4 separate regions of the Homo sapiens genome follow, and regions 2, 3 and 4 are each linked to region 1. Evidence: fine-mapped QTL for protein levels in blood plasma. A gene starts in region 1. Each other region holds a variant in brackets. All regions are shown on one strand. Distances are from middle to middle.

Region 1 (7,396 bases):
GACTGTTGTGGGGTGGGGGGAGGCGGGAGGGATAGCATTGGGAGATATACCTAATGCTAGATGACGAGTTAGTGGGTGCAGCGCACCAGCATGGCACATGTATACATATGTAACTAACCTGCACAATGTGCACATGTACCCTAAAACTTAAAGTATAATAATAAAAAAAAAAAGAAAAAAGATTCAATGTTCCTGGCATTCAATTGTTTGATTCATCTTCATGATCATGATTGGCATTTTGGTTGCTTTTGTCCTGATATAAACATGTTTTGAGGCAAATAAATAATCAGCCATGGTGGCTTCATGGCAGCAACTGGGCTAGATGGTTTCAAGGTTGCTCACAAATAGGCCTGTTGATTCCCCATCCCCATCCACTGTGAAATTCTCTGTCTCAAGGGAGTTTCCGCTATTTGCATACTTTCTACACGAAGGCCTCCTAGGAGGGTCCAGCCCTAACTTTAAAATTACCTGTGCAAATAGCAAAGACTTTGAACCAACCCAAATGCCCATCAATGATAGACTGGATAAAGAAAATGTGGCACATATACACCATGGAATACTATGCAGCCATAAAAAAGAATGTGTTCATGTCCTTTGCAGAGACATGGATGAAGCTAGAAGCCATCATTTTCAGCAAACTAACACAGGGACAGAAAATCAAACACCACATGTTCTCACTCATAAGTGGGAGTTGAACAATGAGAACACATGGACACAGGGAGGGGGACATCACACACTGGGCCCTGTTGGAGGATCGGGGGCACAGGGAGGGAGAGCATTAGGACAAATACCTAACGCATGCAGGGCTTAAAATCTAGATGACGAGTTGACAGGTGCAGCAAACCACCATGGCACATGTATGCCTCTGTAACAAAACTGCACGTTCTGCACATGTGTCCCAGAATTTAAAGTGAAATAAAATAAAATAAAATTCCCCATGCATTGCCTAGTTCTATGTCTGCATCCAGCAGCACCTGAAATCCCGGCCTGATGCAGCCCCGGCAGTTCATCTCATTTTATTTTGCCTGAAGTCTCCAAGCAAGTTCTCCCAGCTCAAGGGCCAGCATTCTTTCCAACAACTCATCACTCCTCGTTATGCAAAGGGAAGAACACCAAGGGCTTTCTGTATTCTGAGCAATAATTCGGGTAATGAAGTGAGAGCTTAGCCTCTCTTGTGAATGCTGAGGAACCCTAAAACAGCATATCTTTTGCTTCCAAAAAGATCTAGCATAGCAATTTTGTTGGTTCATAAAATGCTCAAATGCTCAAACCATATGTTTAGCTACAATTCCCAATGGCTATATCCTTCTTTATATGAGTAAAAGAGGAGGTTTTCAGCATCAGGTGGAAAAATAAGTATGGGTATTGGGGAAAATAGTCTAAATTTAACTCTGAGTCAGTTCCAAGACAGTGGAGGTGATACCAGGTTCATGGCCTGGCATTTCCCAGCCTGCGAATTCTGCTTCAAGTCTGCAAGTCTGCCCAGTAGGTACAAGACAAATCATACCCAAGGACATTTGTACAGAAACATGAGCCTTGCTAGATCCCTCCCTTGTGCAGGGTAGCTTCTATGAAACATATAGACCAAGCAGACTTCCACATCAGTGAATACATTTGGCCATCTGAAAATACAGAGACTTAACACATATGGAGACCTGTGGCTTCCTCGGGCCAGCCTCAGTTTGAAAGCAAGGGTGAGATCTTTGTCAGACACTCACGGGACCTGTGCTGCCCATAAAGGAAGGGGCCCTTCTCTCAGGACAGCACAAGGGAAAACACCCACAGCCGGAAAAGAAGGTGTGTCTCAGCATGACGGAGGCTGTGTGCAAATTATTCCTTGTGCCAATATCAGGAGTGTGGATCTGACAAACAAAAGGCCATGTCATTGGCTTAGTGTCTCTGTGGAGTCTGTAATGGTCCTTTTACTTACTTGAGTCCTTTCTAAGATGGATTTTGTTCATTTTCCACTAAGATTGCAGAAGCTGCACGTGGCGTGGCAGTTTATGAATTGGGTCCCCTGGCAAGGCTCTGAAAGACAGCTGGAGTGGGGGTGGGCTGTGTGTGTGAAGCCGCTGCACAGAGCTGGAGTCGGCTGTCCACACAATCACGTCTATGTGAGAGCCGGCAGCCTGCAAACTGCTTCCCTGCAAGGGGAGACACATGCCAGGGGAGGGCCAGAGAATTTTGTTAATTCTGTTTATCTTAGAGACTGTTTTTTTGTCTGCTGGGGGAAATAAAAAACAAATACATAACTTCCTTGCTTGTGTGCAGTCTGATTTTTTTCTCTCTCTCATGCCCTCATTTTTATTTCTCCGAAGTATCTCTCCCCTTCAGTTTGGGGCATCAGTTTATGGCATTTTTCCGTACATGTGTATATAGTATCTATGCACAAAGTCAGAGATATAAATGTCTGTTTTAGACTCTTTTGGCTTTAGTGTTCTGTGGAGGTCCATGAGATATCAGAGATCTCATTTTCTTTCTGTTAACATAATTAGCAGAGCTCTCTCTGTGCTCAGAGTGCATAGCTGAGTCCCGCATAACCAGCAATAACAGTGCATTCTTAGCAGCCTCCCTGGATAGTTTGCTAAATTCTTTCTGAGAGCCTCTCGCTGCCTTTACAAAGGTTATAGCTGAAAAACAAACCAGAAACTGGGAATCCAACTCTGTGAGCAGAGAGAGGGCTGCACATTCTATTATCGCACGGATAGAGGCTCAGGTTCATGCAGTCGCGTTTGGAGTCCTGGCAATTTCAGATGAAGGCCGTCCTTAGGAAAATCAGCTATCCCAAGCCCAGGCAGTCTGGGTTAGCCGAGGTTTTTGTTTGTTTTGTGGAGTTTTTGCTGGTTGGTCTTTTGTAGATGCTGCAAATCACAAATGGGGAACCTGAACGACACAAGCTTTTTCTTCTCCGTATCATTTTACCTGGCCAAAAAGGCAAAAGAAGGGGAAGGTGGCATTGCTAAGTCACAGGGAAGGATATGACCTAAACATCCCCCCTTCCCCAAGTAATCCGGGAGCACCACTCCCCTCTGAGGACCCCACAGGTACTTTCACAGTCCAACACACTGAGAAACAAGCCCACAGGGTGCCAGGATGACATGACCACAGAGAAAAGGGACAGAAGGAGTTTGGGACACATGCACGGACACCTGTTGCTTTTGCAGACTTGAACTTAGAAAATATGAGCCTCATTAGAATTTCTCTTTCTAAAATAAACGACCACTTTTAATATCGTCAAATATCATGTACTGCTATAGTTCTCTGTCCTCCGCACTGAGAATCCAAAACAGGTCCTTGGGATAACTTTTGGGAAACAATACCGCCACGAAAACAAAAGTCTTCTCAGCCAAGAACACAGATTTTTTTTATCTACCTTTGATGTCCCAAAGGACTAGAGAATCCAGAGCATTTAAATAAGACTCCAATGCCAGGAGCTCACTGTTCCCTGCTGGATGCCAGCCCTCCCCTCCCTGCCCAGAAGAGGACATGGTACTCACCAGTCATTAGGGTATAATAATTGGGATACGAGAGACTAGGGAAGTCTGGAGTCAAGTAATCCACTTTTACTCCCCTGCTCACAATCTCTTTGAAACCAGGCAATGACTCCAGCGCCTCATCACTGATGTAGTCTGAGCGAAAACCATCCAGCAGAAACACCAGCAGCTTCCGGCGGGCAGAGGCTGGCTGGGCCAGGCCCAGGGCAAGGGCCAGCAGGAGGGTCCCAAGCTTCACTGCCATGCTGCCAGGAGCCTGCCAGAGCCCGGCTGGCACAGCTGTCGCCTTGCAAAGACTGAGGATGGAGAATCTGTAGCTATTCTCTCTTCCAGGGGCTGGACCTTGAGCCGCTGGCCTTCCTGAGTCAAGTTCACTTGCAGAATTTAAAGGAACAGCACCCCCTTTTCCACACATCTATGCTCACCCTTTACTAGAAAGTCCAGAGACCGACTCCTTCAGATAAACTGGGTTCCAAACAACCCAGAATTAACACCAGGGGAGAGAGTTCAAACTTATTATTTTTGGTGAACGTTCCAGAAATACAAGCACCCACAGAGGTGGAATTTTAGAAGATGACAAAGTCAACACTAACTTTGCAGTTGAGCTAACCAAAGGGAGGAACCAAGGAAAAGGGCAAGATTTTAATTTGCTGTTATCCCACATCATGGCCTCATTTAAACTCTTTTTCACTTAGAATTTAGTAACGCAAACCTCTGGACTCAGTGCATAAACAGGAAACAATACGTTTCGGTGGGCCCATTTGTAAACTTCCCAGCTGTGTCTCTGTAGACACAGCACTTAAAAAAGTTATTTGTCTATGTCTTGGCCACTTATGTTTTTATATGCAGTGTTATTATTTGTTATTATTTTATTTTTCAAATGTGATTTAGCTGCTGGTGCCCATAGGAGGAGGTGGTTCGTAGAAGAGCCCTAGAGCCAATGAGAAGCTTCCAGAGTTGGACAATGGGAAATCATTACTGGCAGAATGGTCTGAAGCAGCATTGCCCCAGGAGGATGGAAATGAAATAGAGAGCTGGAGATTGAGAGCTTGAGATGGAAAAGCAGAGCTAGAAATTACCATGCAGGCTTTGGGACCGAGAAGACTAGGCGGAGTGGAAAATAGGAGGAGGTTAGTGACAGGGAGGCAGATGTGAGCTGGGGAGCAGACAGAGTTAGCACAAAGTACCCAGAGTCCAGGGGTTCCCTAGAGTGGCTCCGTCATGCTACATAAAATTAAACAACACAATTCATGTGAAGGCTTATAAAACATGGCTGAGTGCAGTGGCCCACTTTGGGAGGCCAAGGTGGAAGGATTGCTTGAGGCCAGGAGCTTGAGACCAGCCTGGGCAACACAGCAAGACCCCATCTCTATAAAAAATTAAAAAATTAGCTGGGCCTGGCGGCACGTGCCTGGTCCCAGCTACACAGGAGGCTGAGGTGGGAGGATTGTGTGAGCACAGGTGGTCATATCTGCAGTAAGCTGTGATTGTATCACTGCACTCCAGGCTGGGCAACAGAGTGAGGCCCTGCCTCAAAAAAAAAAAGACATAAAACATGCATGGTCCATAGCAAGTGTTGAACAAATGTTAGATGTTATTCGCATTATAACATTGCTTGTCTCCTGAGGAAACTTGCAGGCTCTGGGCAAACTTTCCAGGGAAGGAAGATAGACACCAGCCACACCAGCCACTCTCAGTCAACCCCAAAATCCCTCTTCCACCTCTGCCCTCTGCTTGTGTCTTTTCTCCTTCTCTTTTTCTGTTGTATTTGAGTCAAGCCCAAACACAGGATCACCATGTCACTTTTTAAATTATGCTGCAAAAGAGAAACACATTGGCCAAATTACCACTCCCCTCTCAGGGGACTTGGCCAAGGATCAGAATTCTTTTTTCCAATAAGAGGTAATGCTTTTTATAATTAAATTTAAATTTTTTTCTTATTAAAAAATAAGGAAAAGGGGAGTTTATCCTAAAAGGTTGTTACTTTGAAAACAATGTTATTCTTTTTTCTTTGAGCTGTGTGGTATTGTTGCTATAAACAGAGAAAAAGAAAAGAGAGAAGAAAGAGGAAAGGAAGGAAGAAAGAAAGAAAAAGGAAAGAAAGAAAAGTAAACGAAGGAAGGGAGAAAGAGAAAGAAAGGGAAGGGAAGAAAAGGGAAGAAGGAAAGAGAACAGAAGGGAAGAGAAGAAAGGAAGAAAAGGGAGGAAGGGAAGGAAAGGGGAGGGGAAGGAAGGGGAGGAAAGGGAAGGGAGGGAAAGGAAGGGAAGGGAAAGGGAAAGGGGAAGGGAAGGAGGAAAAAAAGAATAGAAGGGAAGAAGGGAAAGGAAGAGAAAAAGGGAAGAAAAGCGAAGAAGGGAAGGGAAGGGAAGGGGAGGGGAAGGGAAGGGAGGGAAAGGAAGGGAAGGGAAAGGGTAAGGGGAAGGGGAAGGGAAGGAGGAAAAAAGAATAGAAGGGAAGAAGGGAAAGGAAGAGAAGAAGGGAAGAAAAGCGAAGAAGGGAAGGGAAGGGAAGGGAAGGGGAGGGGAAGGGAAGGGAGGGAAAGAAGGGAAAGGAAAGGGAAAGGGGAAGGGGAAGGGAAGGAAAAAAAAGAATAGAAGGGAAGAAGGGAAGGGAAGAGAAGAAGGGAAGAAAAGCGAAGAAGAGAAGGGAAGGAAAGGGGCGGGGAAGGGAGGGGAGGGGAGGGAAGGGAAGGGAAGGGAAAGGAAGGGAAGAAGGGAAGAAGAGAAGGAAAGGGAAGGTGAGGGGAATGGAAGGGAGGGGAGGGAAGGGAAGGGAAAGGAAAAAGGGAAGAAGGGAAGAAAAGGGAAGAAGGGAAGAGAAGAGATGGGAAGAAGGGAAAGGGAGGGATGGGAAGAAGGGAAAGGGAGGGATGGGAAGAAGGGAAAGGGAGGGAAGGGAAGAAGAGAAGAGAAGGGAAGGGAAAGGGAGGAGAGGGAAGGGAAGGGAAGGAGAAGGGAGGGGAGGGGAGGGGAAAAGGCAGATGCAGCCTGATGGGTTGATGGGCCTCCTAGACACTGAACATCACATGTGCTAGAAGGAGAACTTCTTCCCCTGGTGAGGGCCCATGGAGGTAGGAGGCCCAGATAGCTGTGCTCTGTGAGTTCCTGAGAGGCTCAGGGATTGTCTGGACTGCGAAGCTGGAGTCACAGTGCAAGTCCAAGTGATTTACTTTGGGATGGCCTCTGAGCTCACTTTGGGATGGCTTCTGAGCTCACTTTGGGAGAGGTTAAGCACTCCAAATGTTAAAGATGAATATAAGAGGGACTTCCACTTTTCTCCACTACTAACAAGGGTACACTCAAAATATGGCTCCCTGAGTGCCTCATTGAGCTGTTGTGGGTGTCAACTCAGAAGTAACTTGCTTCAGATTAGCGTGTTCACAGGTCCCCAGAGGCTCCCAAGGCTCCACAAAGATTGTTGTGATGTATCTGGGGTGGGGTCATCATTGTTTTATGATAATGTTTATGATCATATTGTGTTATGACCATGTTTAGACAATGTCTCTAAAGCTTTGGATCAATAAATGATTGCCAATATGAATCTCTAATATACATACCAATATATGAAGAAAGAGACGTATTGGATGGAATTCAAGCCAAGGTAATCCTAGGGTTGCTCAAAGCCAGTCTCCAGGTCTTGAACCGTCTAACCTAGAAAAGATTGGAAATGAAAGCTAAAAAGCAATAGTTAAAAGCCATATGTCATACAGGTGGTTAACATTAAGTGCCCAAAGTCTTGTGATCCAAAACCTATGTGTCTATGATCTGGATGTCTTCACTTGGGAGTGGTTATCAGTACCTAATGCTTATAAGTGCTTATTGCAACTTGTTTTCAAGGGTTGGCAATACTGTAAAGTCATTGTCCACAGGGGTTTCACTTAGATAATGCAAAATATGAAAAA
Region 2 (7,396 bases), 29 kb before region 1:
CTCTGTGTGGGGTAGCAGGGAGGAGGAGCCGTGTCCTTTTGCGAGAATCATGCCCAGACCCCAAGGTCCTTTCACTCTCATCACCCTCTTTAACCTGCAGAACACCTTGTCCTTATTTAGATTAAAAACAAAAAAGTTGTAGTATTCTTGACAAAAAAGGTTTAACTTGAATCTATTCATGAAGAAAAACAATCAGACAAATCCAAAATGTGGCATATTGTACAAGACAACTGGCTGGGATTTTTAGGATTGCCAACATCATGAAGGACCAAAATACAAAACAAAAAGGCAAAACAATTTCTCTTAATGCAGAGCAAAGGAACATGGCAACCAAACGTACTGCTTGAAACTTGATTAGATTTTAGATTTCAAATAATGTTCTAAGGGATTCTTTTTTGGCCATTGAGAAAACCTGAAAATATGGAAAATAGTCTAATTAGTTGATTTGTTGAATCAATGTTAAATTTGTTGGGTAGCATTGTGGTTGTGTAGAGAATATCTTACCCTTACCCATGCTGAAGGATTTAGCGGTGAAGTGTCAGGTGTTAGCAATTTACCCTCAGCTGGTCCAGCAGAAACAAAAGAGAAACCTATATTTCTCAGTGATTAAATAAAGCAAATGTGCCAAACCTTAACAATTTGAGAAACTTGATAAAGCGTACATAGATATTCATAATACTATTTCAATGTTTTTGTACTTTGAAATTTTCTATTATAAAAACTTGAGGAATAGCCATACAATGGGATACTATTCTGCTGTAAACAAGGAAAAAACTATGGATACATGTTCCAGTGTGAATGAAAATGAAGCTCAAAAACAGTATGCTCAGTAAAAGAATCAAGACCCAAGAGACCACAGATTGAATGATTCTGTTTTGATAAAATATCTACAAAAGGCAAAGCTAAAAAGACGCAAAGTAGATTAGCAGTTTTCTGGGGGCGGGGTGGTGGCAAATGGGAATTAACAATAAATGTGCATGAGACCGACAAGGTGAGAAGAGAGAACAAGAAAGAAAGAGAAATAAGGACCAGGCTCTGAGGAGCTCCAATATAAAGGGGCCAGCAAAGAGAAGTCAGTGGGAGGTTCTAGAAGGTGAGGTTGAGAGGAAGGAGAAAACTTGGACCCCAATAAAGAGACAGTTTCTAGGAGGCAGGAATGGTCAAAAGGTTAAATACACAGAGAGATCTTGAGAGATGCCATTGGGTCTGGCCATTAGGAGGTTTTGAGTGAATTTAGGAAGAGCAGGAAGGGTAGAGGATGACATCAGTAGTGGAATCCCAGTTCATGCATTTGCCCCGCCGTGGCCTGGGCTGAAGTCTCCTACAGGCCTCTCTGCTTCCGCCCTCAGCCTCACTGGCCATTGCTCTCCATGCCCCGGTGCTAGAGTGATCTTTCTAAAATGAAAGTCTTATCACACTACCCCCCTACTCAGAACCCTCCAAAGGTGAGCCCCACACTCAGAATAAGATCCAAAGTCTGCGCCACGACCTACAGGACCTGCCGCGGCCTCTTGTCCATTCAGGTTCTTCAAGAAGCAGACGCCAAGACAAGGTTAAACATAAGAGAAATGTGTTAAGAAAGCACTCGTTCCACACAGAGGGAGGGGAGGAAGCAGAAGCAGGCCGTAAAATCTCCCATTTGTAAGGTCTGGCATCTGTGAGAGGAGATGCGGAAGGAAAGGACTGGGTAGAAAGGATGTCTGCAAATCTAAGGAGGTTTGACCAGATTGCTGGGAATCCTCAAGCTGGGCCAAGGTCACCTGTTAGAGGAAAAGGCCTGCACCAGGAGCCTGACCTTGCTTGGTCATTGGTCAGGGTCAGCTTGGGAGAAGTGAAACTTTGGCACCAAGGTGATGGACTTAAAGGAGCAGCAGCTGGGACCATTGGTTGACTCTGCTCCCTGCAGCAGATCTGGGCAGTACTGCGTGAAGGCCACCACACCACTGCACACCGCTCAGACCTCACTGCCACTCTCATTGCTCCTTTTTTGCTCTTGCTACACTGGCTCTTGGCTTCCTCCAATATCCCAAACATGCACCTGCCTCAGAGCTGTCGCTGTTCCCTGCCTGGAATGCTTTGTTCTCGGATATCTACAGGCCAGCTCCAGGGCCTTGCTCAGGTCTCTGCTCAAATTTTATCTTATCAGAAAGACATTTGCAGACCACCCTAGGTAAAATGGCACTGTGGTCATTCTTGGTGCCTCGTCTAACTTTTTCCATAGAATTTATTACCACCTGACATTGTTTATATATGTGTTATTTGTCTGCAACATTTCACAAGAATGTAAATTTCAGGAGGGTAGAAACTTTGCCCTGTTTTGTTCATTTGTATCTCCAGGGCCTAGAAGAGTATCTCTGGCTCCATAGAAGGTGAGAGATACTTCTTGAATAAATGAATGAATAGACACCTATTATTTACACATAGCAAGCTCTGAAAATATTTTGTTGAATGAAGAATGAATGAATGAAGAATAAACCAGACTGTCCAGGAGCTGGGGATACAGCGCAGAACAAGACCAAGTCCTGCTCTTGGAGCATACATTCTTTAATTAAAATAAGGTTTATGACTGGATGCTAGAGTCACGATAGATGATGTATGGAAGCACAGGCCTCTTGGAGTCAGCTTCTGTGTGTTACCTTTATGGTAGCATGCTCTTACAGAAGACCATTCCAGGACAGAGTATAACATGGCCCATGGGTTGAACAAACCCAGGGGTGTTTTGTTTCCATCCTTATGTTTATGTTTCAATTCTAGAAGTCCTGTCAGTTTCCGTTGTGCCTGAAGCCTTTCCCAGTCGTTTCTCTTTATGAAAAACATCAACGGAGGTTGGCGTCTGTGGGGTATATTCCAAGACCTACAATGTATGTTGTTAACCCAATTCCTTCAACCAAAGAAAATATTGTCCTAGGTTTTTGTTCCAAACAAAGAAGGTAATTTCTTCACCAACTGCCATTTTCACCCCCATCCCCCCAAATTGACGATCTGGGGTCCCACGCTCTGCTTGAGTCAAGGGTTGGCACACGACTCAAAGCTTCTGTCCTGAAGCTGTGTCACAGTCTTGCCACGCTGTGTTTGCATATGGCTGCTAGGAATCAGCTCCATGAGACCACACACAGGCATCTCACGTGAGAGGGAAAGCTGGTTCAGAAGCCACGTGGGGAGACGATGCCACATTGCTCCAGAGGGCTACAGATTTATGAACAGTTTAGCTGGAGAGAGAAGCAAGTCTTCTGAGAAAAGATTCAGGAAAATGTATTGCCAATTAAATGTGGGAGGCTTCATTCAAGATAAAGATGTCTCACGCTCACACATGAGAGACTGATTGTTAATCCCCTGGGCCTACTGGTAGGACCAGCTTTGCATTTTATGTGAC[G/A]GAGGAGGTACTGATTTCCATGAAGAAGTCAAACCCTGGCCCTATTAACACTTAGACTTGAACCTGAATAGATCTAGAAAGATTCCTAGGAAGCAAAATGACAGATAAGGTGATTAAGCAAGTGGATGCATTTGCCATTCTTTGAAAATGTAATTTCCTGGACTTTCCACCTGTGACCCACCAGGGTGACCATTCAAGTCTGTCAAGTGCTTTGGGGCTGCAGCTTGGAGCCGAGTGGCTCTGCACACTAAGAGAGCTGGGCCGTGCTGGGAAAGTGGATTGGAGTTGATATAATAAATAGTTCCTCATGTATATGCCAGGGGATTTCTCCTCTCAGCCGCCTTCCTTTCCTGGCCATGGAAGGAAAGGAAGTCCTGTCAGTTTCCTGAGTCAGGGGTGCTGTGTTGAAACCAGAGGGGATGGTGTCCATTAGATAGTTCCCAAAAAGAATTAGACTTTGTCCCTCAGGGAAACTGGTAGTGAAAGATGTGATTTTCAACAGAAATTCCTGGCCTAGATTTCTAACCCCACAAATCCTACCTCAAATCAGGCCACTTTCCCTCTTTTTAAATCATAACTTTGAGTCTCATCTAGGGAAAGGGGTATAGAAAGACTAAATTCACGCTTTAAAAAGTAAAGGTAAGCATGGACAGGCTTCCGGTGCTAAGCAATGCTGAAGCTCCGGTTTGAGTCCGCAGCACTGGCAGTGAACGGGGCTCATGACCAATGACAGTCCTGCCTTTCCACGGACAAAGTCAGGAAGCCTCATGAGGAAACAGACCAGAGGAGGCCAGAAGGGCAGAAGAAAGAGAGGACCCTGCAGGAATGTTCAAATAAACTCCGTGGAGTCCTTAATGTCCTCATTTTTAAAGAAAAGCAACTTGAACCCAAGGAGACTTTGTCTGAAGCCACAAGGTTTAGATCTCACCACAGCCCGGAGTAGAACCCGTGTCTCCCACTTCTGGTCCATCCTGACTCTCCTCCCATGAATATCTCCAAGAGATGGAGAGGAGCGAGCCAGCCAGAGCCCAGGATCAGCATGTGAGCATGAAAAGGAAGGGAACTCGTGTGAGGAGACAAGTGGTTGGATTTGGCAAAGAACTGAGAAAATATAAAATATGGCTGAGTAAAATACAAGGTAATCTCATTTTGGCAGAAGCATTGCCTTTTTATTTCATGTTATTAAAAATCATATTCTCTTGCTGACCATGAAACCACCTGGAAGCAGGGGTGCTAAAATAGAAAACCTACCACACACCATGTCGCCTCAGGGAACCGCCGTCTCTGAGAAATTTTCCAGACTCTCTGTTATAAGTGGCTTGAACTCTCAAACCTAATATCTCTTGGGTAATACAAAAGAAGTTGTTTAAACCACCAGAGTACTGGATTACTCACCGATCTGGAATTTAGTGAAAAGGTAAACCATAGAGTTTAAGTATGGTGCCTTCTTGCCCCTCACAATATTTGACAGAGTTTGCAAAATACTTAATTCCTTCCATTTCTGCTTTGTGCTTCTAGAACTTATCCTGGTTTGTGTGTGGACTGTCACTGGGGAGAAGAGAGCAGAGAGAATCGGGGAGATATGTCTGAGCTGATCTCCCTCATTTTCATTTGGATGTTTCATCTGCTCTAAGACTAAACATATCACCCTTGATAGATTGGCAGCAGGAATTTCTTTTCTGTTTGGAGTGGAAATGAGATGGGGAAGAGAACAGCTAAAAAGGAAAGCTGGCTAACTATTTAGGATACAGCAGCTTCAAGAAACTTTAAAACATATACAAGGAGGCATTTATAGAGTGCTTACTAAGTGTCAGGGAGCATGAGACACATTGAGTGGGATGTAGGGTGAGTCAGACCCTGCCCTCATTGGGACCACCATGCCCTCCCAGGTCCCCATAACCAAGTATAATCAGAAGCAACTTGTCCAGAGCTGCATCTTGGTGGTCTGGGGCAGTATCCCAGATGTGACTTATCAAAAGAGGCCTGTTTAAGCCATTTTTCACAACTGTGCAGCCTTGACCATTTGAGATAAGTAGCTAAGTGTCTGATGTTGAATCCTCTCTTTTATGCTCAACCCCAGAAGCGCTTATTGTTCACATTGTCCATTGAGACACACAAAGGAGGGTTTAAAAAATAGTTACCCAGGAGGTTGCTTAGTCTGAAGGAAGCCTGGAAAGGCAGTGGCTCATGTACTATGGGTGTCTATGTGTGCAGGCGTATGCCACGTGCATATGCAGCTACAAGATCACTGTCTAAGGGAGAGACACGTAGATGCCTATGCAGGATGGCGGCCCTGAGAGCTGCTTCCTTAGAAGTCAGAAGGAAGAGGCAGCATGATGTTGTGGGGAGCACAGGATTTTGTACTCATAGTTCTTCCATTTATGGGCCCTGTAATCTTGAACAAGTAATTTAATATCTCAGAGCCTTGGTTTCCTCATTTGTAAAATGGGAACAATTGTGACTACTTTATAGGGTTTTATGAGGATTAATTGGAATAGTGTTTGAACGTACCTAGCACTGAGCATAGCACAAAATACGGTAGACATTTGGGAAATGTACGTTCTGCTCCCTGCTTGACTGAATCCGGCTACTTGTAATAAAGGAAGACAATAGGAGTGCTACAGAGATAGGCCATCCATTGTCTTCTCAGATCCTGACTCTGCCAACTGGAGGCAGTGTGTTGAGAACGCAGAGCGATGGAGGGGGAAGCAGAAGCCCTCTGTTCTGGTCCTGATCCACTCACTTCCTGACTAGTTGACCTCAGGCAAGGCACTTAACTTCTCTAGATGAAAGTTCTCTCATCTGTAAAATGCCTGTACATAACTCCTAACGTGACTGTAAAGATCAATTGAAGGCATCAAGATTAGAAAGGAAGAAGTAACTGCCTTTATCTGCAGAAAATATGATCTTGTATATTCTTGTATGCAGAAAATCCTCAGGAATACACAAAAAACTTTTAACTAATAAACAAATTCAGTAAGGTAGGAAGATAATTACAGTTTATATACTGCAAAAATAAAATTCTGAAGATAATTCCATTCACATTAACGTCAAAAAAAATAAAACATTTAGCAATATTTAGCAAAAGAAGTACCAAATGTACGCTGAAAGCTACAAAGCATTGCTGAAGGAAACTGCAACAACCCAAATACATGGAAAGACAGCCCATATTCATGGATCAGAAGACTTAGTATTGTTAAGATGGCAATACTACCTAAGTTGGACTACAGATTCAACACAATCCTTATCCAAATTCCAGCTGGCTTTGGCAAAAGTTGACATGTTCTTCCCAAATTTAATATGAAAGTACAAGTGACTTGGAATAGCCAAAACAATCTTAAAAAGAACAAAATTAAAGGATTTATGTATACTGATTTTGAAACTTTCTACAAAGCGTGGCAATCATGATAGTCTGATCTCACCATAAGGATACACCTAAACATCAAGAGATTATTGGAATAAAATTGAGAGCCCAAGAATAATCTCTAATATTTATGATCAATTGATTTTTGACAAAGCTGTCAGAAATAGTCAATGGAAAAGGAATAGTCTTTTTCACAAATAGTGCGGGGACAACTACCTCACACTGTATATAAACATTAATTCAAAAGGGGTCACAAACTTAAATGTAAGAGCTAGAAATTTTCTTTGTCTTATAAGAAAACATAGGAGTAAATCATCACGATGTTGGGTTAGGCAATTATTTTGTAGTTATGACACAAAAAGTACAAGTCGTAAAAGGAAAAGTTGATAAATAGGACTTCATCAACAATAAATGCTTTTGTACAGCAAGACATCCCATGAAGAAAGTGAAAAGACAACTCACAGCCTGGAAGAAAAATACATGCCAATCATATATCCCATAAGGAATTTATATCTAGCATATAGAAAGAACTCCTACAACTAAAAATAAAATGACAATCTAATTTTTAAAATGAGTAAAGGGATTTGTATAAACATTTCTCCAAAGAAATTATCACACAGTCCACAAGCACATGAAAAGAAAATGCTCAACATCATTAG
Region 3 (7,396 bases), 64 kb before region 1:
AGTATGTTGGACTCTTCACTGTGGGTCAATTTTTCAGCCTGCTGCTTTATCTACCTGACAGGAAGACTTGAACTAGTGCCATTTCTAAATTGCACTTCTAAATATTGACTTAATGGCGAAACTCAGCGTGTCATAACCCAGTTCACTAGAGCAACGAAGATTTTCCAGGCCTCACCGAGAGGTCTGTACAATATCCTGTGGGGAGTGGAGAAGGAAGAGGAGGATTTAAGAAGAAAAATACAATCAAGTTGTGTTTTGAAGAAATGCCCCTGCGCCTCACTTAATCTTGCAGAGACACATGAGTGCTCATTGGGCTATTGGCTGAGGCTGGAGGGAACCAGGGTAGACAGAGAAAGGATAGCAGCAACCAGAAATACTGCAGCTGCCCCCCAGGAAGATGAGAGGGTGCCAGGGCACACCTTGCTGGGCTGGCAGCAGAGACAGCTGGCTCTCTGAGAGTTTCATTTGAGTATCCAGTTTAGAAGGACTAGACAGTGTCTGAGAGACTAGAGACTTTATTCTATATCTATGAAGACTTCAGCACAGCCAGATCTTCAGCAAATCTTCATTTAGGTCACTGAGGAAACTCTAGGAGGCTATCTTTATAGCTTCTTTCCTCCTGACAGTTAACACTGTAAATGATCTTAAGGCATTTTTGTCACATCCCATTAGCTGTTAGACTGTGAATCAGAGGAAGATATTGGTCCCTTCTTATCCTGAAGGAGCTGTTTTGGAGGAGCAACAAGATATTTTTCATGCAAATTAGCTTTCAGATTTCTTTAGACACTCAGTGCTATATAAATTTGTATTCTCCAAGAGGAGCTAAAAGCCTGGAGCAGTGGCTCATGCCTATAATCCCAGCACTTTGGGAGGCCAAGGTGGGTGGATCACCTGAGGTCAGCAGATCAAGACCAGCCTGGCCAACACGGTAAAACCCTGTCTCTACCAAAAATACAAAAATTAGCCAGGCGTGGTGGTGCACGCCTGTAATCCCAGCTACTCTGGAGGCTGAGGCAAGAGAATCACTTGACCTGGGGAGGCAGAGGTTACAGTGAGCAGAGGTCATGCCACTGCACTCCAGCCTGGGCAACAAGAGTGAAACTCTGTCAAAAACAAAAGGAGATAAAGCACAATAATAATACCCTGTACTGCTGCAGAGAGAAGTGTGTGCAATACGGCGACTGCCCCTCAGTAGGATCTCCTCCCACTTGGCTGTAGCACTGGCATCCTGGCAGATGAAAGGCCCTCTCCAGGAGATCTTATGTGGAGGGGGCTCAAGGGTTGTTGGCAGGAAGGTTTTGTGTGTGAGGGTGTGTTCTTCAAAGGAGGAAAAACTTAAGTTCTAAGATAGTGAAAGTCAAACTATCCAGTTATCATGGAAGATAATCCTCATGGTATTGGCCACATTCATCTTGATGCTCCTCAGATTTGTTTCCGGGTGGTCCCTAATGCAGTGTGCCCAATCCATTCCCTCTGCTATGCCTGTGTATGAATTTGTTGATAATAATGCCTCTGAGAATGACCTCAAAGTGCAACAAAATCTTTGTGCTTTGACCTCATCACACTTGCTAGAAGAGTCAAACTCACCCCTGGATTTGGCTCCTCTAGCAAGCCTGATGAGCCTGCTCCGTGCAGTGACTTCCTTCCTTAAATCTAGTCCAACTCCACGAAAAGTTATCTCCTTGTAAGATAATGGAATCCTCCTAAACTCTTCCTCTTCCTTTGCTCAAAGGTGTCTTGCGTCAGCCGAGGTGGCTGCTATGGAAGGAATCTTAGGTGTCTTCTGAAGAAATTGTGATCAACCCCCCTGAAGCTGTGTCTGCTGGGAGAGCCTGTGCTGGCTATGTCTTTGTTGCTTGGCCCAGCTGTGAATTCATGCAGCCTGCCCTGGCCTTCAGAAGCTCACCTGCGGGTGAGGCCACTGCTCTGCAGCAGCTTGTACGGTGCGCGCCACGCCGCACCACAGCTGGGTGGTGGGCTGCCCTCCGCGGTCTCCGTGTGTCTGTGTTCCATGTACCTCTGAGAGTTGCATAGCCTGGAGTGCCCCAGCAGCTCCCCACACACCCACCTCTATCCAGCATCCTCCAAACTCCTGCTGAAGGCCCACGCAATCCTTGTGGGCCTTCACCCCCTCTCCACTGCCCCCTCCCTGCAGACTACACATCTCACAACCCACCGCCCACTCACAGACCCATCAGGCTGCCGCTGTCCTCAATCCAGACCAGTTCGACCCCCTCAGCCACTTCACCCCATCTCCTACAGGCTGCTCTTCATTTATGCCTTCAACGTTCTAGGCCTCCCCTGGTATCTTCCTCCATAATGGCCATCATCAGGATGACACCATTGAGAATCAGGAAAAAAGTGTCTATTGCCACGGGCGTGGGAAAGGTAAACTGACCACTTACCTAAATAATGAATCCCACCAATGGAAAGACAATGGGAAGCGGGTTGTATTGTTATCACTGAATCCTCTCATCCTTAATGAAAGATATTCAGTGACCAAGATGAGGGTGTCCCGAGGACTTCTCACAGCAGCCGAGGCAGTTTGCATGACTACTTACCTCGTTGAGCTAGGATGTAGCATGGGAGTCTTAACACAAAGGGACTTCATTTCATGGACTACCAAAAAATAGCGAGTGCTTTCAATTCTCTTTTCAATATTGTAGAGGAGCTCAATGACGTATGGAAATGGTACACTGTTTTTTTTTTTGTAAAGCAAGTAAGCACCCTATAATTTCTCTCTCCTGTATATCCAACATTTTGCACATGAAAAAAAGCAAGCTATCCTGTGGTGTTTGCTATGTCAAGAGAATCAGGAAATAGCATTATCTCTGGTCTGATGTTAGAGAGTTAAAAACACATTTTTCAAAAATGTGCCCATAAGACATATTTCTTTTCTTTTTCTTTTTTTTTCAAGATTGAGTTTTGCTCTTGTTGCCCAGACTGGAGTGCAATGGCGCAATCTCAGCTCACCACAACCTCCGCCTCCTGGGTTCAAGCGATCCTCCTGTCTCAGCCTCCCGAGTAGCTTGGATTACAGGCATGCACCACCACCCCAGCTAATTTTGTATTTTTAGTAGAGACAGGGTTTCCCCATGTTGGTCAGGTTGGTCTCGAACTCCTGACTTCAGGTGATCCACCCACCTCGGCCTCCCAAAGTGCTGGGATTACAGGCCTGAGCCACCGTGCCCAGCCAATACATATTTCTTAAATAAAGATCCCATTTTCCAAACCACGGCTTGGTCTTCAAACAGTAACTTGACACCGACTGTCCTCAGAGACTCTATGATGATTTGAGATTTGGAATGGATGTTCACACACTCACCTGGCCAGTAGTACATGTAGACCTTCCTTTTGGCCTTGGTCAGAGTGACCCACAGAGGTTCTGATCCATTCCACCAGAGAGGCATTAGGCTGTCTTTGTTGACGCCAATGTCAAAGGACTTGTTG[G/T]TGGTGGGGTCCCACATGTAGTTCCCGATCATCTGATGGACTTCACAATGGCGGCCTATGTCAATGAGAACACAGCTGTCAGTTTACGGTTCTGGTGGTTTCTATTTTTATCTTTGTTTCTTGATCATATAAGCCATTCGTGCTCGTTTAGGAAGTACAGAACAGCATAAAGATTTGCTTTTGACTTTAAAAAAAAATCAGATTTTTTTTTCTTAAGCTGTGCCATGAAGGTAGACAATCCAGTTAGATGTCCACTAATTGATGGAGGGTGGGGTCATTTAGAGTGACGTCACCCTGTCAAGTCAGCTGTTTTAAGTTACACTGAGGACACTGTGCAGAGCTTGAAGTCTAAATATGAATTAGCATGGACATCTGTGGATTCCTCTGAGACTTGGTCTCAGATTCTCACCCCAGAGCCCTCTCTGCACCCTCCAAACCCTCCTCCCGTGAGATCAGCAATCTAGCTGTTATAGCGTTTATTCTTTCCTTTCTTAAATAAGAGGAGTTGTTGCTTCAGCTCTGAACAGTGATAAAACCTATGACGTTTGGAACAGAATAGCGAAAAATAGATTCAACTTTGAAAAACAAAGCAGGAAAACAACCCTTCAAATGCAGTGTTATACAGAAACGAGGGCTGGTTCTGTTGAGCACAGCTTAGTCCCAGAAGACAAGCCAGAAGTGAGAGACGCAAACGCTTGGACTCTTTTGAAACATTAGGCTTAAATTATTTATTTTGGAGCAATCTGTTACATCTTTAAAGTAAAAATAACACAAACATTGGCAAGTGCATCAAAAATTGCTGCAATTTTAGTGAGCGTCATTTGGCACCAGGACGAAACATGCTTCACTGAGCTCCCTAACTATGCTTAATCAAGTGGCTTTTCTTCTTTGTTTTACTGTTGTTGTTTCTTCTCCCCACCCCTCCCAAAATTTTATTTTTAAACAGAAACAAAGAAAAATTATAAAATACTATTTGGAAAATAGACACTAAAAATATCAAATGGAAAAACCTTTCATTTCATCCCAGAAAGCAAGGCAGGCCACAAACTATGCTACTGTGCTCCCAGAGATCCCAGCAAAAATGGTTTTCACCCAAAGCTGTAGAATTAGTGTTTTGATCTTGACCAAAACTTTCACATTAAAAAGATTAATACAATTAAAAATAAAATAAAATTAAGATGTTGAGCAATTTTGGCAATGGTTAAGGAAGTTATTTTATTTATTGTTTCAACTAACATGTATTCAGTGCTCTTACATATATAGTCCTATGTATTGTAGGCTGTGATAGATGTAGAGATTCCAATCTGAATAAATGTCATGCCCATCCTCAAGAGACTTGTAATTTAATACTCAACAGAGGGTCCTCTGTGTAAAAGAGCCAGGCTTCCCGGGGCTGGGTCTGAGAAGGAGGACAGGTTGCAGCCACAACTTCAGAGTTATGATGACCCTCGCTCACCCTGTTGCAGAGGATAATTCCTAGTATGTTCTCACCAACTCATTAAAAGTAGGGTCCTAATCTATTGGTTCAACTATATTATCGTTTTTAGTATATGAAAGTTGAATCATATTAAGAGAGCCCCTCTTACAAGTAAAAGTACTTATCTATTTCCTTTATTCAAAATTTTGCATTCTGTGTCACAAATTGTATTATCCTAATGATGCTTACTCATCCTTTCACAAGGCAAAATAACCATGATCATATCTGTAGGAAAAGGCCTCCTTCGTGGACAGTCTTTCCTCATAGAGAGATGTTCTCTGATGCCCTTCCAAGTGCAGGAGGTTATCTCAACTGCAGCTGGTGTGCAAAGAAGCTGAGCAAATGTGCAAAATTGGAAGGGGGTGTGGGAAGCATCATTCCTGAGGTCAGGAACCAAAGAAGAGCCTCTGAATGAATCATCAGGAAAGGACCAGGGATATCAGACATGGGAATAATAGGGAGAGATGCCGAGGGAGAGGGGTGGAGGGATCTCTGCTTCCAAGCTTGAATTGTTTGGACCATTTTAGAACAAGGCCATGAAACCCAGAGATAAATGGAGGCTTCACATGATGTAGTTTTCACAAGGCTGCATACAAGGAAGCATGAAGCAACCAAAAAACAGTTTTTAAAGTACATATAATCTATACTTGTATATCTCAGAAACCCCATATCATTTGGTGAAAATTTCTCTCTTCTCTTCAACGCACATATTTAGCACTCTGGACTCTAAAGTGTCCAAACTCACTCATTCTTCTTTGTTCTCTGCTCTCTGAGTAGAAAATTATAAGGAGCTTCTTGTGGATTGCAGAGCTGTTGTATGGCTGGATTGTGTGTGTGCATGCATGCACAGGTGTGAGAGAGACAGAAACACAGAGGGAGACAGAGAGAGACAGAGAGAGAGATGGAGAGAACATTCTCCCAGAGAATTCCTATAAGGTGGAGCGCTTTCAAGAAGGTCACCTCAGACTCCTGTGGAGAAAGTTGGGTTTCTTCTTTTGGTGGATTGGGCCCTGAGCTGAGATGGGAGGGTGTGCTGTCCCCAGGGCTTCCTTTGCTCTGGGAAGAGCAGCCTTTCCCGGAAGCTGGCAGGAGGAGGCTGCTTCAGATCTTGTCCCGCCTTCCCATGAATACAGTAAGGCTGCAGTCTGTGCTTGGAACAGTCGAAGTCGACTCAGACTCAAGCTGATTTCCCTACCAACCCTCTGCCTCTCTTGCTCTTTCATTTTTATTGCCTCGGTAAAATTGGTGGCTGAAAGAACAGAACAGAACACAATGTACTGGCTTCTGCAGCCCACGAGCTCTCATCTCCATATTCCTGCCTGACCCATATCTATTTTTATACAACTGCAGTTCTGGGTTTTTCTCTGGTTGTGCTTTCCAAACAGAGCTTGGATGTGGTGTGGTTTTTTGGTCTCTTTGCTCAAGGCTTGAGTAGAAACTTTCCTGACATCCTCCAACACCACAATTGCAAGTGGTTTTCAGGTATGATGTAAGGAATGTCTACAGCTCTTCCTCCTCCAAATGACTACTCTGGGGGCTTTGAAATATGTGTTTGCCTTTCTCAGAGAGAGCTCCTGGAATCGTTCCCATAGCTAGAACTGCTGTATGAAGGGGGTGGGATATGACACCTTCGGTGTTCATTCCACAGAGTCTTACTCAAGCATGTTCGACGTAGTGACCATCACAAGAAGTTTCTTAGCAAGGCCCCCAGAAACTTCTGCACCATGTTATATGTTTCATCTCAGAAATGGCTGGCCTTCACATCTCACGAGAAGGTAGAGGATATGTCCATCTTACCTATAACTCATGGTCACAGAGACTTTCTCTTTGACTTCTGAGTCCTCTGCTCAACTAGACTCAAACTTGGGCTTCCTTCCTTTTTCTTGTAGAGTCCAGGTTGAGCAAGAATCCTGCTAAGTCAGTTTAGTGATAATCCTCCACGCTTGGTATCTGACCACCCTCAATATCTCACCACCCTGCCTGCCTTCAGCAAGAGTTCTGTTGAGTAGATCTAGCCAGAATTCATTGGCCAGAATCCCTTGATGTTTCTTCTTAGTAGTTTTGCATCCGCTGACCCCACCATGTTCCTTGTCTGTCAATCTCTACTTGTCTGTTGTACTTGGAGTGGAGCCCAATCTCTCTCCCACTGCTGGATCCCACTGCAGCATCCTTCCGTCTATCACAGTGGTTCCTCCTTAAAGAAAGTTAGCCTTACCATCTTTAACAAGCATCATAAATAAATTCGTTCTTTCTCTTTCTTTCTTTCTTTCTTTCCTTTTCTTTCTTTCTTTTCTTTCTCTCTCTTTCTTTCCTTCCTTTCCTTTCTTTCCTTCCTTTCCTTTCTTTCCTCTTTTTCTCTTTCTTTTTCTTTCTTTCTCTCTCTCCTTTCTTTCCTTTCTCTCTTTCTTTCCTTTCTTTCCTTTTTTTCCTTCCTTTCCTTTCTTTCCTTCCTTTTCTCTCTCTTTCTCT
Region 4 (7,396 bases), 13 kb before region 1:
CCTTCTGGATCTTCTCTCCTTGCTGTCGAAAGGGCTGATGATGGGAGTCGGTTCAGACCAAGCAAAGTATCCAACAAGAGTCAAACACAGCACGCGCGCCCCCAGGACCCCCAGCTCTGCCCCAGGTCTCTGCCTGGTTATCGTGTGGACACAATGGACCTATTCATGGAGAGGGGCTCTGAAACTCGAGCAGGTGTTGCTGAAGGTGTCTCTGAGATGAATGTTAACCTGCTGAGTCAGGCTCCCTCCAAATTAATCTGAAATGCCCTTTAACCCACTTTTGGCACAGCACTCATGCTGAGCAGGAACTGGAGCTGCAGGGGTCAAGCCATCCCCAAAGCCTTGGCAGGAGGCACATGATCCTATCAATCAACATTGGGGTGAGGGAGGCGGGGCGGGGGGGTGTTGTGAGATCGCCATGGTGTGTAGACCGCAGTGGCTCCACGTGGACAAGCCTTCTGGAAACGCCTTTGCTGTTATTACAATCAAAAGCTTTCACCACATTTTACAGCTTTGCCCCCTACTCTAACCACTCCCTTCTTCATGGAGCAAGTTTCCAGCAGCTGAATGCCATATAATCAGAACACCCTCTGGTCACCATGGAAGCCAAAAGAAACATACTTTTTGAAAAGTGACACTTCAGTGCAGAGAGGTCTGTTGATAGGAGCTTAAATAATGATGTGCTGGGAGACATTATTTTAGTAAATTCTTAGAACACATTTTTTTTTTTCCTCAGGGCATGGCTGGTTAGTAGTGCTCTTACCCACTTCTAGCTTCAATTGCTGGACACCTCGCCTACCATGCCTGCTTCTTTAGGCAGCTTAATCGAGGCTCATTACAGAGAGTATAGTTTAAGTGGAAAAAATGTTGTTAGGTGTCTCTGGGAAGTATATGACAAAATGTTGACAAAAGTTAATTCAGGTGGGAAGACAGATTTTAACTGTGCATCCGTGAGAAATATTCTCTACCAGCTGGGTAGCAAGCAGTGAGATAGGAAGTCCATTTACTGGGGTCCACTAGGACCCACAGGATCAATTTCTCTCCTTTGCCTCAGTGGTATTCTGCATGCTTCTTGAACTCTCCTTTAAGACATGGTCTCTGATCCCCTAAAGGGCTAATGCCAAGTGAATATCTTACTCAAATTGAAATATAATTTGATGAAAATTACTTTTCCAAATAAATCTCACTGAGATTAATAGCCCTTCAAACTTTCCCATCTGTGCTAATGAGAGCCCCTTTACTCAGACTTCAGAAGATCTTGCAGCTGTGGCATCTGTTCAGGCTCTTCTTTCGTATTCACTCATCAGCCAATCAGCAAGTTCTGCCTCATGGGTGCCCTTCAAATTCAACTCTCCCCCTCACTTACAGCCCATCATAAAGGATAGATGCGGTGAAGTCTGGAGTGGAACAGGAGGGGAGGAGGAGCCTGTTGGACTATCCTTTGGTATGGCTTTCATAGACTTTCATCAATTGCACGTTTTTGACACACTCTATTCTCTGCAACCCCCGACCCACACCCAGATGGCAAATGGGCTCAGCACCCCTCCTTCTGACCTGACCACGCTCACTTCTCCTCCTTTGCCCAAACTATCCATGATCACAATGTTCTATTTTATCTTTTACCTCTGCCATGAGAGCAGCATGTCTCATTTAGAAGTTGCTTTTTTCAGCCTGGGTCCCAGAATGAAGAGGAAATCGGAGGGGAGGTCATTCCTCAAGGCCACGCACATGAGTGAGGAATAAACCTGAGCTATTCTAAGACAGACGTGGTGTGGAATTGCTTGTTGCAACAACATAACTCAGCCTCACCTTACTGATAAAGGGGGTAATATGTACACTCTTACTAATGGTGAGTTTACACATATATTTGCTCATTCTGTTCTCACAGCAAGCCTATTGGGTAACATTTACTTTCTACATTCTACTGATAAAATATTAACACTCACTGGACACAATGGCTCATGCCTGTAATCCCAGCACTTTGGGAGGCCAAAGCAGGTGGATCACCTGAGGTCAGGAGTTTGAGACCAGCTTGGCCAACATGGTGAAACCCCATCTCTACTAAAAATACAAAAAAAAAAAAATAGCCAAGTGTGGGGGCAGGTGCCTGTAATCCCAGCTACTCAGGAGGCTGAGGCAGGAGAATCGCTTGAACCAGGGAAGCGGAGGTTGCAGTGAGCTGAGATCGTGCCACTGCACTCCAGCCTGGATGATAGGACGAGACTCTGTCTCTAAAACAAAACAAAACAAAATATTAACACTCAAAAGAAGCTGTTCAAATTCTGAAAGTCAAAAAGTGACAGAATAGATTAAGTTTGATCTTTGACAGCTAAATCCGTAACTTTCTCCACTGGACCATGCGTAATGGGTTGACTTGTGGCCCCCAAGAAGATATACTGAAGTTCCCAGCCTCAGGACCTGTGAATGTGACCTTATTAGAAATAAGCCCTTTGCAGACATAGTCAAGTTAAGATGATGTCATTAAGGTGGGCCCTAATTCAATATGGCTGGTGTCCTTACAAGAAGGAGAAGCACAGAGGAACACAGAGAATGCCCCGTGACAATGGAAGCAGAGGTTGGAGTGATGTATCTACCGGCCAAGGAATACCGAGGATTGCTGGTGACACCAGAAGGCAGGGGAAAGCGCAGAACATGTTCTCCCCTTGAGACTTCAGAGAGAACACGGCCCTGCCCGCACCTGGATTTCAGACTTTGGGAATCCAAATTTGCTATAGCAGCTCTAGGAAGCTAACACACCATGACTGCCTCAATTTCAGGGCAGAAGTCACCAGAAACTCTCAGTGAGTAGGTTTGGTCATGGAAGTGGGCTGTGTAAAAAAACCCTGCATTTTTCCATTAGCAGCCTAGTGTCACGATCCCGTTTATATTGCTTTCCAATGGCTGTCAGGACAAAGTAACACAGGCTGGGTGGCTTAAACAAAAGAAATCTAGTTTCTTACAGTTCTGGAGGCTGGGAGTTTGAGATCAAGATGTCATCAGGGTTGATTTCTTCTGAGGCCTCTCTCCTTGGTCTGCAGGCAGCCGCCTTCCCCCTGTGTCTATATGTGGTCTTCCCTCTGTGCCCGTCTGGGTCCTAATCTCCTCTCCTTATAAAGATACCAGCGATACTGGAT[G/T]AGTGCCCACCCTAGTGACCTCATTTTACCTTAATTACTTCTTTAAAGATCCTATCTTCAAATACAGTCACATTCGGAGATATTAGGGGGCAGGGCATAAACACATGGGTTTTGGGGGTGTACAAATTAGCCCATAACGTGGCCTGATATTTTTAAACATCTAAGTAGCTCCTTGCGATGCTGGCATACATAGCCTGGCCACCTAAGCAGCCTGGGACAGAGGCTGAAAACACAAGAGTGGCCGTGCAAGTCCCTTTAAGCTGCCACATGCGTCCCTAGGTCCGACAGCCAGACCACTCGCACCTAGGCCTGAACCGTCCTCACAGTGTTCCACGCTGGTTCTGAATCATGTGCCTGGTTCCATGCGTGGCTGTTGGCTCCACTTTCTCGACTTCAGCGATCTTCACTACAAGGAGGCTCTCCCTTGGGCTGTGCTGACCACTGGTTCCTGGTTAAACTTTCTCCCACCATCCCCAGTCTCTTTCATCTCCTACTTTGACACAGCTCTCCTTGGAGGTGACTCTCCTTCCAGGCCTCTTTCTGACTCCAACCTTATAATCAAAATTTAAAACAAAACTGAAAGACACATTTTGAGATATGTAAGATTACTAGACGTAAAGGGTAATCAGTTCACTAAATGCAAATTGCTTTCATATGAGCAAAGCATGATTGTAGTTTTTTCTCCTCCTTATTAGTTTAGAAGTGTCGAACATCAAAGTGATCATTCATTTCCCTGAAACTCTGAATGTCTTAATCATCATTATAATGCTTTTTCGCTATAGTAATTTTTTTTTTGAGATGAAGTTTCGCTCATGTTGCCCAGGCTGGAGTGCAGTGGCACCATCTTGGCTCACTGCAACCTCCTCCTCCTGGGTTCAAGCGATTCTCCTGCCTCAGCCTCCCAAGTAGCTGGGATTATGGCACCCACCACTACAACCAGCTAAATTTTTTTGTATTTTTAGTAGAGACAGGGTTTCACCGTGTTAGACAGGCTGGTCTCGAACTCCTGACCTCAAATGATCCACCTGCCTCGGCCTCCCAAAGTGCTGGGATTATAGGTGTCAGCCTCTGTGCCCAGCCCACTATAATAAGTTTTATTTGGAGAAGACAGAAATAAATAATCTGGTGCCGTGATGGAAAATAAAGAAAGTAAGAGGGAGAGAGAGCGCTGGTGGGGTGGCTGGGGAAGACGCATCCGCCACGGTGACCTTGTGGGGCAGATCTGAAGAATGCAGCGATGCCCAGCTTGGGCCTTTCTGGGGAACAAGCAGAAGGGAAGCAGCCAGGAGGAGCAGCGTGCTCAAGCACGCCCAGCGGGACACAAGCAAGCGAAGAGAAGGGTGGTGGGAGCGAGGCCCCGAAGGGGCTGGGTGACCTATAGGGCCAGGTCTGCAAGAGCGTTAGATTCCACTTGGGGTACAACAGAACCCGCTGGAGGGTTTGAACAGAGGAGTGGTGTCATCAGGACTGCTTTCCCAGGGCTGCTCTGGTTGTAGGGCAGGCACTGCTTTCAAAACAGGGCTGCTCTAGTTGTGGGGCAGGCAGCGAGAGGGAGCTGGAGTAGAGGAGGCTCCAGGCAGTCAGGGTGGTGGCTTCAGCCAGGGGTCAGCAATGGAGGTTGGGGGAGGAGAGGCTGAGGATCGACCTTGAAAGGTCAGCTGATTTCACTGTGAGACAGAGGAAGGTCAGGGAGATCAGGAGGAACCAAGGGAAAGGATGAAGGAGGAGTGAGTAAAGTAAAAGGAAACTGAGAGAGGACAGGGTCCTGGGACCTGTGAGCCGTCAGGCAGATGCAGCTCCCAGCCAGGGAACTAAGGCTGGGAATGACCAGGACGCCCGGGAGGACACTGTTCCAAACAGAAGCTTCGCTGGATTTGGTGCAAGAGAGAGTAGGAAGACAGGAAGAGGGCATGCCGAACAGAGATCATTTATTTCAGGAGGTACCTACATTGAAGGAGGCTCACAAGCTGGGGCAATGTCCCCATGTAAATGCTAATCCTGGGGGAAGGAGGGCGGAGGGGACCAGGGAGGCTGTCTCCACCCTACCTGGAGCTGTGCGTATGCAGAGTCTGTGAACAGCCCCTCAAAGGAAGCTTGAATTTTTTTTTTTTTTTTTTTTTTTTGAGACGGAGTCTCGCTCTGTCGCCCAGGCTGGAGTGCAGTGGCGCGATCTCGGCTCACTGCAAGCTCCGCCTCCCGGGTTCCCGCCATTCTCCTGCCTCAGCCTCCCGAGTAGCTGGGACTACAGGCGGGCGCCACCAGGCCCGGCTAATTTTTGTATTTTTAGTAGAGACGGGGTTTCACCGTGTTAGCCAGGATGGTCTCGATCTCCTGACCTCGTGATCCGCCCGTCTCGGCCTCCCAAAGTGCTGGGATTACAGGCGTGAGCCACCGCGCCCGGCCAGGAAGCTTGAATTCTGCAGAAGGCTGAGGATGTGGGCTCTCTCGAAACACGATTGTTCAAGTACTTTCTGCATTGATTGCCTTTGGTCCAGTTTTAATTTAAATCAGATGTTTTCTTAAAAGGTGGGGTGGTAGGAAGTATACCTTACTCTGCTGTTTTACCCCAGAACATGATATCTAGTAAGAATTTGTGTCACAGGTGATTTCTAGGAGTGCGAGACAAAATGCCGTGGCACAAATAGTAATGCTGAGTAGTTAACATCCCTGTTGTTGCCTTGATTTCCACAGAGGAGCACGATGATTCGGTCTCTCGCTGCTTCCCGGACTGTCTTGGGGAGATCTCTATCCTTGGGTCTCAGGTCACTCGCACAACCTTCTGGCCACTCTAAGATGCAGGCTTAGGCCCTGGCCAGTTACTGTGTGAGAACGGGACCTCTGATGCCTACTCGCCTAGGCGCTGGCCAGTTGCTGTGTGAGAACGGGGTCTCTGATGCCTGCTCCCCCATCTCAGCTCTGCCACGACGTTCTTTGGTGCCTGAAACAAAACATTGAATTTCCCTGCACTTTATTTACTAGTGTCTAAATGTTGAAATAATAATAATATACTGTGGAACAAACTTATTTCAGCATCTGTTCATCTCTTGGTAGTTTACTGGCAGTAAAGATAAAATTCTAGACTGGCTTCCCCGCTACTCAGAATGTTTCTGGGCCACTTTCCTCAACTGCTTAACCGGAAGTGTTTGAAAATTGCAAACAAATGTTACCATTAGCCTTAGCAAAATGATGCTAAGTTACGCTGCCTCAAAACAGATGCAGCATTTCCCTCTTACCCATGACCTGGATTGAACAAATCACTGCTTTCTTTCCTTGACTTTATGTTAAACTCCACTTCAGTCAAATGTGAATTTACCCCAAAGGGAGAATAACTTTACGAAAAGATCCACGGTAAGATACACTAAAACAGAAAGCATTCCAAGGGCATTTAAACTGTGGTTGTGTTTTCACTAGTTGATCCACACACCGCTCTTCAGAGAGAGAGCTTATGCCTAAAGTAAGATGTAGAGACACACACCACGCCGGTGGCTGTTTCTTCCAGCTCAGATCTCTCCTCTTTAAAATGCTTTTTCACACTACTCCAACTGGAAGGAACGCCTCCTCTCCCTGGTCCTCTGCAGCACGCTGGGGCCCTACTCCCTATTCTCTGTGTATTCATTCGCTTGGGCTGCCATTATAAAGTACCACAGATGGAGTGGCTCCAACAACAGCAACTTATTTGTTCACAGTTCATGAGCAAGGTGTTAGCAGCATTGGTGTCTCCTGGGCCCCTCTCCACCGCCTGCGAGGGCCGCCTTGCTGTGTCCTCAGATGGCCTTTTCTCTGCACGTGCGCATGCCTGTGTCTCTTCGCCTTCCTATACTGTCATATTGGAATAGCCCGCTCTAATGGCCTTGTTTTAACTTGGTCACCTTTAAAGACCTTATCTCCAAATGTGGTTACATTCTGAGGTACTGGAAACCCAACTTGAACTGGGGGACAGGAGGATGAGGACACATTTGGGCTCACAACACCTTGCTACACACTTTAGAATATTAGTGGGCACCCATTCGCGAGTGTTCTGCCTCCCCTGCTTGAATGTAATCTCCCTGGTGAAAGGCCTGTTTTAAGATTCAGTGGGAGGAGCCAAGATGGCCAAATAGGAACAGCTCTGGTCTACAGCTCCCAGCGTGAGCGATGCAGAAGATGGGTGATTTCTGCATTTCCATCTGAGGTACTGGGTTCATCTCACTAGGGAGTGCCAGACAGTGGGCGCAGGTCAGTGGGTGCGCGCACCCTGCGCGAGCCGAAGCGGGGCGAGGCAT

Alleles and levels. Alleles are on the strand shown, and positions count from the first base shown. The strength of an association depends on the size of the effect and on how common the allele is.
As copies of A replace G in region 2, the plasma level of the protein whose gene starts at base 3,792 in region 1 goes up (moderate association).
For the plasma level of the protein whose gene starts at base 3,792 in region 1, allele T in region 3 goes with a lower level than allele G (weak association).
For the plasma level of the protein whose gene starts at base 3,792 in region 1, allele G in region 4 goes with a higher level than allele T (strong association).

Evidence for each region. PIP is the chance, under the fine-mapping model, that this variant and not a neighbour inherited with it causes the effect. The UK Biobank Pharma Proteomics Project read protein levels with antibody pairs (Olink). The fine-mapping took linkage between variants from a reference panel, not from the people measured, so its PIPs are less certain.
Region 2: its variant is fine-mapped to the plasma level of the ENPP6 protein (UK Biobank, PIP 0.98).
Region 3: its variant is fine-mapped to the plasma level of the ENPP6 protein (UK Biobank, PIP above 0.99). The variant lies in the coding sequence of ENPP6. If it changes the protein, the assay may bind it differently, which can mimic a change of level.
Region 4: its variant is fine-mapped to the plasma level of the ENPP6 protein (UK Biobank, PIP 0.97).

What each region holds. Positions count from the first base shown.
Region 1 is chr4:184,214,082-184,221,477 of GRCh38, forward strand. It overlaps ENPP6 (ectonucleotide pyrophosphatase/phosphodiesterase 6), which reads right to left and starts at 3,792. Exons shown (of 8, transcript NM_153343.4): 1 at 3,498-3,792. The coding sequence starts at 3,738.
Region 2 is chr4:184,185,468-184,192,863 of GRCh38, forward strand. All of the region lies in intron 1 of ENPP6 (ectonucleotide pyrophosphatase/phosphodiesterase 6), which reads right to left. Among named protein-coding and RNA genes, the nearest start is that of ENPP6, 29 kb to the right of the region's middle. The variant G/A (reference allele first, on the strand shown) is at 3,374.
Region 3 is chr4:184,150,229-184,157,624 of GRCh38, forward strand. It overlaps ENPP6 (ectonucleotide pyrophosphatase/phosphodiesterase 6), which reads right to left. Exons shown (of 8, transcript NM_153343.4): 2 at 3,326-3,505. Among named protein-coding and RNA genes, the nearest start is that of ENPP6, 64 kb to the right of the region's middle. The variant G/T (reference allele first, on the strand shown) is at 3,451.
Region 4 is chr4:184,201,019-184,208,414 of GRCh38, forward strand. All of the region lies in intron 1 of ENPP6 (ectonucleotide pyrophosphatase/phosphodiesterase 6), which reads right to left. Among named protein-coding and RNA genes, the nearest start is that of ENPP6, 13 kb to the right of the region's middle. The variant G/T (reference allele first, on the strand shown) is at 3,135.